Linked DNA regions of Homo sapiens. The protein of the gene in region 3 interacts with the protein of the main gene of each other region in a biochemical or structural test. Each region holds a gene or a part of one and is shown on either strand. Other genes may lie near its edges.

What was found.
Region 1: of the proteins of NKAP (region 3) and SRPK1, one has a biochemical effect on the other in vitro, tested with the Homo sapiens proteins (one large-scale study listed by BioGRID and IntAct).
Region 2: of the proteins of NKAP (region 3) and SRPK2, one has a biochemical effect on the other in vitro, tested with the Homo sapiens proteins (one large-scale study listed by BioGRID).

The regions. Positions count from the first base shown.
Region 1 is NC_000006.12:35,911,013-35,914,665, forward strand, and holds part of SRPK1 (SRSF protein kinase 1), read right to left. Parts: intron 1-3,653. UniProt on the Homo sapiens protein: Serine/arginine-rich protein-specific kinase which specifically phosphorylates its substrates at serine residues located in regions rich in arginine/serine dipeptides, known as RS domains and is involved in the phosphorylation of SR splicing factors and the regulation of splicing.
Region 2 is NC_000007.14:105,382,401-105,386,053, forward strand, and holds part of SRPK2 (SRSF protein kinase 2), read right to left. Parts: intron 1-3,653. UniProt on the Homo sapiens protein: Serine/arginine-rich protein-specific kinase which specifically phosphorylates its substrates at serine residues located in regions rich in arginine/serine dipeptides, known as RS domains and is involved in the phosphorylation of SR splicing factors and the regulation of splicing.
Region 3 is NC_000023.11:119,933,614-119,937,266, forward strand, and holds part of NKAP (NF-kappa-B-activating protein), read right to left. Parts: intron 3,070-3,653; coding exon 2,999-3,069; intron 2,819-2,998; coding exon 2,684-2,818; intron 945-2,683; coding exon 881-944; intron 1-880. UniProt on the Homo sapiens protein: Acts as a transcriptional repressor. Plays a role as a transcriptional corepressor of the Notch-mediated signaling required for T-cell development. Also involved in the TNF and IL-1 induced NF-kappa-B activation.

The DNA.
Region 1 (3,653 bases), on a different chromosome or scaffold from region 3:
TGACATAACATGTATTCTGCAGCCCATGGATCAAGGAGTCATTTCAACTTTCAAGTCTTATTATTTAAGAAATACATTTGATAAGGCAATAGCTACCATAGTGATTCCTCTGATGGGTCTGGGAAAAATCTATTGAAAACCTTCTGGAAAGGATTCACGATTCTATATGCCATTAAGAACAGTCATGGGGAGAGGTAAAAATATCAACATTAACAGGAGTTTGGAAGAAGTTGATTCCAACCCTCATGCATGACTGAAATGTTCAAGACTTCTGTGGAGGAAGTAACTACAGATGTGGTAGAAACAGCAAGAGGACTAGAATTAGACATGGATCCTGAAGATGTGACTAAATTGCTCCAATCTCATAATAAAACTTGAACAGATGAGGAGCTGCTTCTTATGATGAGAAAGTGGTTACTTGGCCGGGCGTGGTGGCTCACGCCTGTAATCCCAGCACTTTGGGAGGCCAAGGTGGGAGGATGGCTTGAGCCCAGGAGTTCAAGACCAGCATGGGCAACATGGTGAGACCCTGTCTCAAAATAACTGATTAGTTTATTAATTAATTTTTTTAAAAAATAAGTTTCTTTCTTTTTTGTTTTTAAGAGCTAAGGTCTCACTATGTTGCCCAGGCTGGCCTTGAACTCCTGGGCCCAAGCAATCCTCCCATCTCGGCCTCCGAAGTAGCTAGGACCACAGGTGCATGCCACCACACCCAGCAGAAAGCGGTTTCTTGAGATGGAATCTACTATTGGTAAAGATGCTGTGAACATTGTTGAAATGACAACAAGGGACTTAGAATATAACATAATCTTAATTTATAAAACAGTAGCACAGTTTGAAAGGACTGACTCCAATTTTGAAATAAGTTCCTCTGTGGGTTAAATACTATCAAACATCATCGCATACTACAGAAAAATCTTTGGGTAAGGGAGGGTCAATAAATGCAGCAAACTTCATTGTTTAAGAAATTGCCACAGCTACTCCAACCTTGAGCAGCCGCCAGATGAGTCAGCAGCCATCAATACTGAGGCAAGACCATAGCTGGGTGCAGTGGTTCACACCCCTAATCCCAACTACTCAGGAGGCTAAGGCAGGAGGACTGCTTGAGGCCAAGAATTCAAGGCCAGCTTGAGGGCAACATAATGAGATTCCATCCCTTAAAAAAAATAAAAAAATAAAAAATAAAAAATGAGCTGGGCATGGTGGCATGTGCCTGTAATCCTAGCTACTTGGGAGACTGATGCAGGAGGAACGCATGCACCCAGGAGTTCGATGCTGCAGTGAGCTATGATAGCACCACTGCACTCCAGCCTGGGCAACAGTACCAGACCCCATCTCCCTTAAACAAAAATTATTATTGAGGCAAGACCTTATACCAGCAAAAAGATTATGACTCACTGAGGGCTCAGATGATCCTTAACATTTTTTAGCAATAACGTATTTTTAAATTAAGGTCTGTACATTTTTAAAAGACATGACGCTACTGCAAAGTTAACAGACTACAGTACAGTGCAAACATAACTTTTATATGCATTGGGAAACAAAAACTTTGTGTGACTCGCTTTGAGGTGGTCTGGAACTGAACGTGAACCCATAGTATCTCCAAAGTATGCCTGTAATACTTTAGCCAATTTAAAAATATCCCCAAACTAGTAACAGTGATAGAGAGGATTTGGAGAGCATGAGCAAAAGAGCTTACCTAAAGTGGGAAAAACCCCACAAAAAAGTGCCAGTTATTCCACAAGGTCTAAATTGATTTTAGTTGATCATCTTTCTTCCCTTCTTTTGGAGACAGGGGTCTTGTTCTGTCACCTAGGCTGGAGTGCAGTGGCATAATCACAGCTCACTGTAGCCTCTACCTCCTGGGCTCAAGAGATCCTCTCACCTCAGTCTCCTGAGTAGCTGGGACTACAGGCACGTGCCACCACACCCAGCTAACTTTTGTGTTTTTAGAAGACAGGATCTTGCCATGTTGCCCAGGCTAATCTCAAGTTCCTGGGCTCAAGGCCTTGGCCTCCCAAAGTGCTGGGATTACAGGCATAAGCCACTGTACCGAGCCTTTTTCACTTTTAGTAAGGGAATTCCTAAGCACCCGCAGCCTTATTCACTTTGGCACTTCAACAAGTTGCTGGTTTCAAGTAATCTAAAGGAAAATGGTAATTTGTCAAGCCTGGGATGCACTGTAGTAGAAACACTAATGTAAATAAAACTTACTAACCAATGAAACTACAGAGGAAGAAGAGAACAAAATATTTTCTGACAAGAGAAGTTCTAGAAATTCAATTTTGCAAGTAAATTTATATTTAAGGGAATCACACACAATTAAAAATGCAAATTTTAAAAAAGATATAACAGTTGACCTTGAGGTAGGAGAATCACTTGAATTCACTTGAATCACTCCAACTCGGGAGGTGGAGGTTGCAGTGAGCCGAGATCGCGCCACTACACTCCCACCTGGGCAACAGAACAAGACCCCGTCTCAAAAAAAAGTAAAAAGCAAAGGAGGCCAGGCACAGTGGCTCACGCCTGTAATTCCAACACTTTGGGAGGCCAGGGTAGGTGATCACCTGAAGTCAGGAGTTTGAGATCAGCCTGGACAACATGGTGAAACCCCGTCTCTACTAAAAATATAAAAATTAGCCAGGTGTGGTGGCACGCACCTGTAATCCCAGCTACTCGGGAGCCTGAGGCAGGAGAATTGCTTGAACCCAGGAGGCGGAAGTTGCAGTGAGCCAAGATCATGCCACTGTACTCCAGTCTGGGTGACAGAGCGAGATTCCATCTCAAAAAAAGAAAAAAAAATAAAAGAGAGAGAAAAAAGAAAAAGCAGAGGAAAAGACAAATTTGCCACGGTTTTAAAAATCAATTTATGTAAAAAGCACACTATAAGTGACATCTGAAGGACCTATAACAAGCTGAGAAATAAAAGTCTGCCGCACAACAAAGGATACTTTCTCTTTTTTTTTTTTTTTTTTTTTTTGAGATGGAGTTTTGCTCTTGTCGCCCAGGCTGGAGTGCAATGGCACGATCTCGGCTCACTGCAACCTCCACCTCCCAGGTTCAAGCAATTCTCCTGCCTCAGCCTCCCAAGTAGCTGGGATTACAGGCATGCACCATGACGCCCGGCTAATTTTTTGTATTTTTAGTAGAGAAGGGGTTTCTCCATGTTGATCAGGCTGGTCTCGAACTCCCGACCTTGGGTGATCCACACGCCTCAGCCTCCCAAAGTGCTGGGATTACAGGCTTGAGTCACCAGACCTGGCTAGGATACATTCTTAATAAAGAGTTCTTAAGATCAAGAAAAAGATCAACAATCTAATATTAAAAATGGGCAAAAAATTCAAAATTACAACAAGGTATTTTATAGATTACCAGATTTGGCAAGATTTTTCAAGTAATATTACCTAGTTCTGGTGGCTTCACAGGAGATACAAGAACACTCCCATTTCCACTGCTTTGCCTAGAGCAGTCCTCTTCCAAGTCTTTGTTCAAATGTCACCTTTTCAGTGTGGCCTCCATCACCCTATTTAAAACTGTAACCTTATCTCCATTTCTCAACCCCCACTTATCTTTCTCTTTTTTCTCCACCTATCACCTAATATACTATTTAATTTACTTATTTATGTCTATTGTTTATTCTGTCTTTCCTCCCA
Region 2 (3,653 bases), on a different chromosome or scaffold from region 3:
AATTAGCCTGGCATGGTGGCACATGCCTGTAATCCCAGCTACTCAGGAGGCTAAGTCAGGAGAATCGCTTAAACCCAGGAAGCGGAGGTTACGGTGAGCCAAGATCGTGCCACTGCACTCCAGCCTGGGCAACAAGAGCAAAACTCCATCTCAAAAAAAAAAAAAAAAAAAAAAAAAAGGAATGCTCTGCTCACACAGGCAACAACATGGATGAATCTCAAGGGCATTACGCTGCATGAAAAAAGGCGAATCACAAAAGGTGACATACTGTATAATTCCATTTATATAACATTCTCAAAGTGGCAACATTAAGTGATAGAGAACAGATCAGTGTTTCCCAAGCTTAGATTTGAAGAGAGAGTGACTGTTCTTTGTGGTAATGAAACAGTTTGGCATCCTGACTGTGGTGATTATTCTAATCTACACAAGTGACACAATTTGTTAGAACTACACAGAGAGTGCATGTAAAACTGATAAAATCCAAGTAAAATCTTTCTTGAATTAATAACATTGTCTCAATGTCAATTTATTGGTTTCAACAATGTTCTATGGTTAAGATATCAACGTCAGGGAAGTTGAATAAAGAGTACACAAAGAACTCTGTACCACTTTTGCAAGGTCTTGTGAGTCTGAAATTATTTCAAAAGTAAAAATTTTTTTTTTTTTTTTTTTTTTTTTTTTGGAGACAGAGTCTCGCTCTATCGCCCAGGCTGGAGTGCAGTGGCACAATCTCGGTTCACTGCAAGCTCCGCCTCCTGGGTTCACGCCATTCTCCCGCCTCAGCCTCCCAACTAGCTGGGACTATAGGTGCCCGCCACCATGCCCGGCTAATTTTTTGTATTTTTTTTTTTAGTAGAGACGGGGTTTCACCGTAGCCAGGATGGTCTCGATCTCCTGACCTCGTGATCTGCCCACCTCAGCCTCCCAAAGTGCTGGGATTATAGGCATGAGCCACCGCACCCGGCCTCAAAATTAAATGTTTTAATAAAAATTTTACAAGAACAAAAAACAAAACAGAATTTTTTTTTTTTTTTAATTGAGACGGAGTGTCGCTCTGTCACCCAGGCTGGAGTGCAGCGGCATGATCTCGGCTCACCACAACCTCCGTCTCCCAGGTTCAAGCAATTCTTCTGCCTCAGCCTCCCGAGTAGCTGGAACTGCAGGAGCACACTACCATGCCAGGCAATTTTTGTATTTTTAGTAGAGACGGGGTTTCACCCTATTGGCCAGGCTGGTCTCGAACTATTGACCTCGTGATCCGCCCACCTCATCCTCCCAAAGTGCTGGGATTACAGGCATGAGCCACCACGCCTGGCCAGAAATAGAAAAATTTTAAGGAACAATGGATAAATGGATAAAATGTGGCATATTGACACAACTATTCAACAATATAAAGGAATTAAGTACTAATACGTGCCATAACATGGATGAACCTTGAAAACATTGTTCTAAGGAAACCAGACAAAGCCACATACTGTATATTCCATTTACATGAAATGTTCAGAATAAGCAGATTCATAGAGACTTAGAATGTAAATTAGTTGTTGCCAACGCAGGGGGAAGGGGAATGGAGAATAACTGGGAAATAAATATGGAGTTTCTTTCTGGGGAAGTGAAAATGTTATAGAATTAGATAACGGCTGCACAATTTAATGAATAGACTAAAAATCTGTAAATGGCCTACTTTAAAAGGTAAATTTTATGGTATGTGAACTATATCCCAATAAAAGTTATGAAAAAAATAAATGAAAGAGATATTTTAAAAATTGTACCTCCATATAAACATACTATAAGGCAAAAATTTATCCCAAGCTATGTGATGTAGCTAATTCCTAAGATTTGTGACTAAACAGCACTACAGTCCTTCCGTTCTGCCTGTTACTCACAAAGCAGCACAATTAATAATAAGCAAACTAAACTCACAGGACAATCTAACAGGATTAAAATTTTGACCCACTAAATAATCTTAATCTTATTCCTGACAACTACAATTTCCAGTGTACCATAAAAGTAGCCTCTAGGAACTGGCTCAATTCATAAAAGCTCACAGATTTGAAATGAACTAAAATTAATTAAAAGCCTGCTTGTATATACAAAAGTAGATAATGACAAAAGTAAATCATATTATACCAAGCCAGACCCACAGTCACATAATTCAAGTTTGCCAGTCATCATATTAATAGTTTAAAATTATACCTATTACTCCTTTTCCTCCTCTGGAAAATTAATCAAAAAGCAAAAACCGTGCTTCAAGAGACCTGAATTCTGATCCAAACGAAGCTATTGTGGGCTTAACCTGTCAGAGCTGTCTGTAAAATTCGGGGTACCCTGAAAATACTAGTCTCCTGGAGATTCTTTTACCACTTCTCAGGTGCCACTCCTCACACACTCAACGTCACCCGGTTTCCCATGCACTACTGCAGGCCACTTCTGTTTCCACTACTACCCCCATCCCCACAATCTATTCTCCACATAGCAACCTTTTTTTTTTTTTGAGACGGAGTCTGGCTCTGTCGCCCAGGCTGGAGTGCAGTGGCGCAATCTCGGCTCACTGCAAGCTCCGCCTCCCGGGTTCACGCCATTCTCCTGCCTCAGCCTCCCGAGTAGCTGGGACTACAGGCGCCCACACGCCCAGCTAATTTTTTATATTTTTAGTAGGGACGGGGTTTCACCGTGTTAGCCAGGATGGTCTCGATCTCCTGACCTCGTGATCCGCCCGCCTCGGCCTCCCAAAGTGCTGGGATTACAGGCGTGAGCCACCGCGCCCGGCATTTTTTTTTTTTTTTTTTTTTTTTTTTGAGATGGAGTCTCGCTCTGTCGCCCAAGCTGGAGTGCAGTGGCACAATCCCGGCTCACTGCAAGCTCCGCCTTCCAGGTTCACGCCATTCTCTCGCCTCAGCCTCCCGAGTAGCTGAGACTACAGGCGCCCGCCACCATGCCGGGCTAATTTTGTTTTTGTATTTTTAGTAGAGACGGGGTGTTAGCCAGGATGGTCTTGATCTCCTGACCTCGTGATCCGCCCGCCTCGGCCTCCCAAAGTGCTGGGATTACAGGCGTGAGCCACCGCGCCCGGACAGCAGCCCTCTTTTTAAACAGGAATCAGAACCTGTCCCTTCCACATGTAAGCCTCCAATGGCCTACGAGGGTAGACACGCTCTGACTCCTGCCTCCCATCAACCTCTCTGGGCCACTCAGGCCACTCTTACTTTTGGGTTTCTCGAATACTTCCAGCCCATTCCTCCCCAGGGCCTCTGCCACACTGGATCTCCTCCTCATTCTCGATCCTGCCCAAATGCCATTTCTCAGAGAGTGGACTCTGGTCCCGGGCTGCCTTGATTCAACAGCTGGGCATGTTACTTACTTTTCCTGTGTCCCTGTTTCACCTGTAAAATGTCCGTAATAACGGTGCCTACCTCTTAGGGTTGTCACAAGGTATATGTAAAACAATCGACAGAGTGACTGGCACAGTGTTCAAATGTCATCTATTATTATTACTTAACATGTCCCATCTTCATTTTCTTCCTATCCCTTAGCCCTATCTGAAATTATCTTGTCACCCTCTTTGTGGTTTTCCCCAAACCTCCCAAGGTTAGCTTTGCAAGGAGCTTTGTCTTGTTCAAAACTCTATCACCGGCCGGGCTTGGTGGCTCACG
Region 3 (3,653 bases):
AACTGCTGAGAATAGAGGAATTATTATTAAATGTTTTAGGCACAATAATAGCATTCTGGTTATGGGTTTTTGTTTTTTTTTTAAATATAGAGACAGGATCTCGCTATGTTGCCCAGGCTGGTATTGAACTCCTGGGCTCAAGCGATCCTCCTGCCTGGCCTCCCAAAGTGCTGAGATTACAGATATGTGCCACTGTGCCTGGCCAGTTTTTTGTTTTGTTTTGTTTTAAAGAATGCCTATCTTTGTGAACCCGGGAGGCGGAGCTTGCAGTGAGCCGAGATCGCGCCACTGCACTCCAGCCTGGGCGACAGAGCGAGACTTCATCTCAAAAAAAACAAAACAAAACAAAAAGAATGCCTATCTTTTAGAGAAAGGTACTGAATTGCTTATGGATGGAATGATATCTGAGATTGGGTCCAAAATAAATGATGGATGGCAGATACTGCCCATGAGTTGATAATTATTTAGACTGCATGACAGGTGCAGGAAGGATCATTATACTATTTTATGTAATTTTATATGCATTTGAAATTTTCTGGCCGGGTGCAGTGGCTCACTCCTGTAATCCCAGCACTTTGGGAGGCCAAGGTGGGAGGATCACTTGAGGTCAGGAGTTCGAAACCAGCCTGGCCAACATGGTGAAGCCCCATCTCTACTAAAAACACAAAAATTAGCCAGGCATGGTGGTGGGTGCCTATAATCCCAGCTACTCGGGAGGTTGGGACATGAGAATCGCTTGAACCTGGGAGGCGGAGGTTGTAGTTAGCTGACATCGAACCACTGCACTCTGTTGCCTGACAGAGTGAGACTCTGTCTCAAAAAAAAAAAAAAAAAAAAAAAAAGAAAAGAAATTTTCCATAATAAAACTTAAAAAACTGACGATCTGTGTTTCTTCTTCTTTTCCTTTTTCTTGGCTTTCTTTGCTCTCCTTTTGTTATCTTCATCTGCAAATTAAAGCACATTACAATTAAGAAAAAAATTTTTTAACTCTAAAACCGTAGTACTTTTGAGTAGGTAACTATCCTATTGCTGTCCCATTTATTGTTACAAAGAAATTACCTCATTGAAACATTTATTGCTATTTGTCACGAACTGTAGGGAGGTACTATGAACATAGAAATTAAAGTCACTAGGTTTTGATGATATAGGGTATTATTATTAATTTTATTGTGTGAGATAGTGTGGTGGCTAATTAGGAAAATGCCTCTTTTTACGGGATGCATACAGAAATATTTAGGGTGGAAGTGTGATGATATTTGTAATTAACTTTGACTATCTCAGTGAAAAACCCATATTTGAAGCAAATATGTAAAAATACCAACAACTGCCAAATCTAGGTGATTAAGTATATGGTATTAATTATACTATTCTCTTCGCTTTTCTGAATATTTAAATATTTTTGTGATAAAAAGGGAAAGAAAACTATGTGTGTGTTGGAGAGGGGAGAGAGAATCCTTTCCTGGAGCTCAGTCTAATGGAGGAGACAGATAGGTAAAGAGATCAATACAATCTGGAATGATAGAGGGAAGCTTGGGGAACCTGGACACACAGAGGAGTCTCAAAATCAGACTGATTTGAGGAGGGTGGCTGAGGAATGGTTGATCAGGAAAGGTGACTCTTAAAGTAGTTCTTTGATTACAAAAGTAATGCATGCCCATTGGTGCAATGAGTAAACCAAGCTGGATGGAGGGAGAGACTGGCATTGTAGGCAGAGGGCCTCTCTACCAAGTAACAAGAGAAAGAACATGGAATACTGAGGAGACAGAAAGTAGTTTTCAGATTACAGAGGATGTTGCAAGAGAGTGTAACAGGGTATATGTGATTAGAGAGAAATGAGTCAGGGTCTGAACTTTACCCTGAAGGCTATGGAGTGCTATTGAAGGATTTTAAGTAGGTATTTGGTGTATAGGGTATTATTACTAATTTTATTGTATGAGATAGTGTTGTAGTTAAGTATAAAAATGCCTCTTTTTAAGTGTTGCATACAGAAATATTTGAAAGTTCTGTCTTCGAGCACTGAGGAAGAGAAGTGACAGGGAGGGCCAGGAAACTTCGGCGATATCAGAGGAAGGTGAATCTTTGTGTAATGTGTTAACCTCAGAGGAGGCACCTTCTGGTCAATCATCAGCCAGGAGAGAGTACAAAAAGGAGACTCTTTGTGATGCACTACCCCAGATAGGGTGCCTTCCACAAATAGGCAGCCAGCATGAAGTAGGCACTTTATGGCATACCTTTTTGAAAACTGTAGAGGTGCTCATTGGGCATGAGAATTAAACAAAAGAGCCCTTCCACTGGGCCGATGCAGCCCTGTAAGGCTTACTTTGGTACAGCCCAACCCCCTGACTTGGTCTGGTGCCATGTGCCTTGTACACTTTGCACAACCAATCCCAATCCGGAGTCAGATTGCTTAGGTTTGAATCCAAACTGTGTGACCTTAGGGATAGTACTTATAACCTGCTCTGTCTCCATTTCCTCATCTATAAGATGTACCCTACAGTTATTGTATGGATTAAATGGCAATAATAAATATAAAGCACTTATTGGGGTACCTGGCACAAGGTTAGCAAGTGTTCAAAAACTCTTCAGTATTATTATTGTTTTCAGGAACCTTCTTCTAAAATAAGTTTTAAGAAGTAAAACTAGTTTTGAAGCAAGGCTTGCAGAATGCTGTTGGCGTTCTTACCACTGGAGTCTGTTTCAGAATCAGAGTCACTGTCGCTATCTTCAGAATACTTCTTATGTTTTCTTTTCGATGATTTTTTCTTTCTCCTTTTCTTGGACCTTTCTTTTGAACGGCTAGACTTCTTCTTTTTTTCTTCTAAGAAAGTACAAATTAAAAAATTATATTCTAAAAAACTATTTCTGAACATCAAAAGAAACAGACGATGGGCAATTTGAGTAAAAGCAAAGTCTAATGTTCAACTATTTACAAACTGATTTTTTTAAATCTCTCAATAAAATAGCTTGTATTTTAAAAATACCCTTTTTTTAAAAATACCTTCTGAAGTAGAAGCTGAAGTAGTGCTTTTCTTTGGCTCTTCATCCTCCACTGGTGTATGTTCATCAGAACTGAATTTAAATAAAATGGTTATAAGAATTAGGAAAGTGATGAGATATGGACCATGGAGTGTAAAGATATGAACTCCAAATTTTTCAGTAACAGCATCGATTGTCCAAGAACCATTAAAAGCAAGCATTGGAGATCCTAAGGCAGAACTTGGGAATCAAAAAAACCAAAACAACAACAAAGCAAGCACTGAACTACTTTCATAAACGTGCAGTTCAAGGGTCTACCATCTTTGTAATAATAAAATAACTTATCATTTGCATAACACTTTAGAGTTTACATAGTACTATTTAAACAAAGCAGCATGGAGGATTTATATTTTCACAAGAAACCACAGGGAAAAAGTAGAGAAACAGGAACCATAGGAAAGATTAAAGAAACTGGGTATAAGAAGGCTGAAGAAAGACTTTATAATTTTATTTTAAGCACGTAAAAGACAAATGGTAAAGCAGCAACTGTTCTGTCTCCTCAGAGCAAAAACCTAACAAACTACAGTCTAAAGAGATGTTGTTCTGTTGCAGAGAATTCTGAAAATGAGTATTATTCAAATTCTACAATAGTTTAGAAAAGGAGTTTCCACATCATA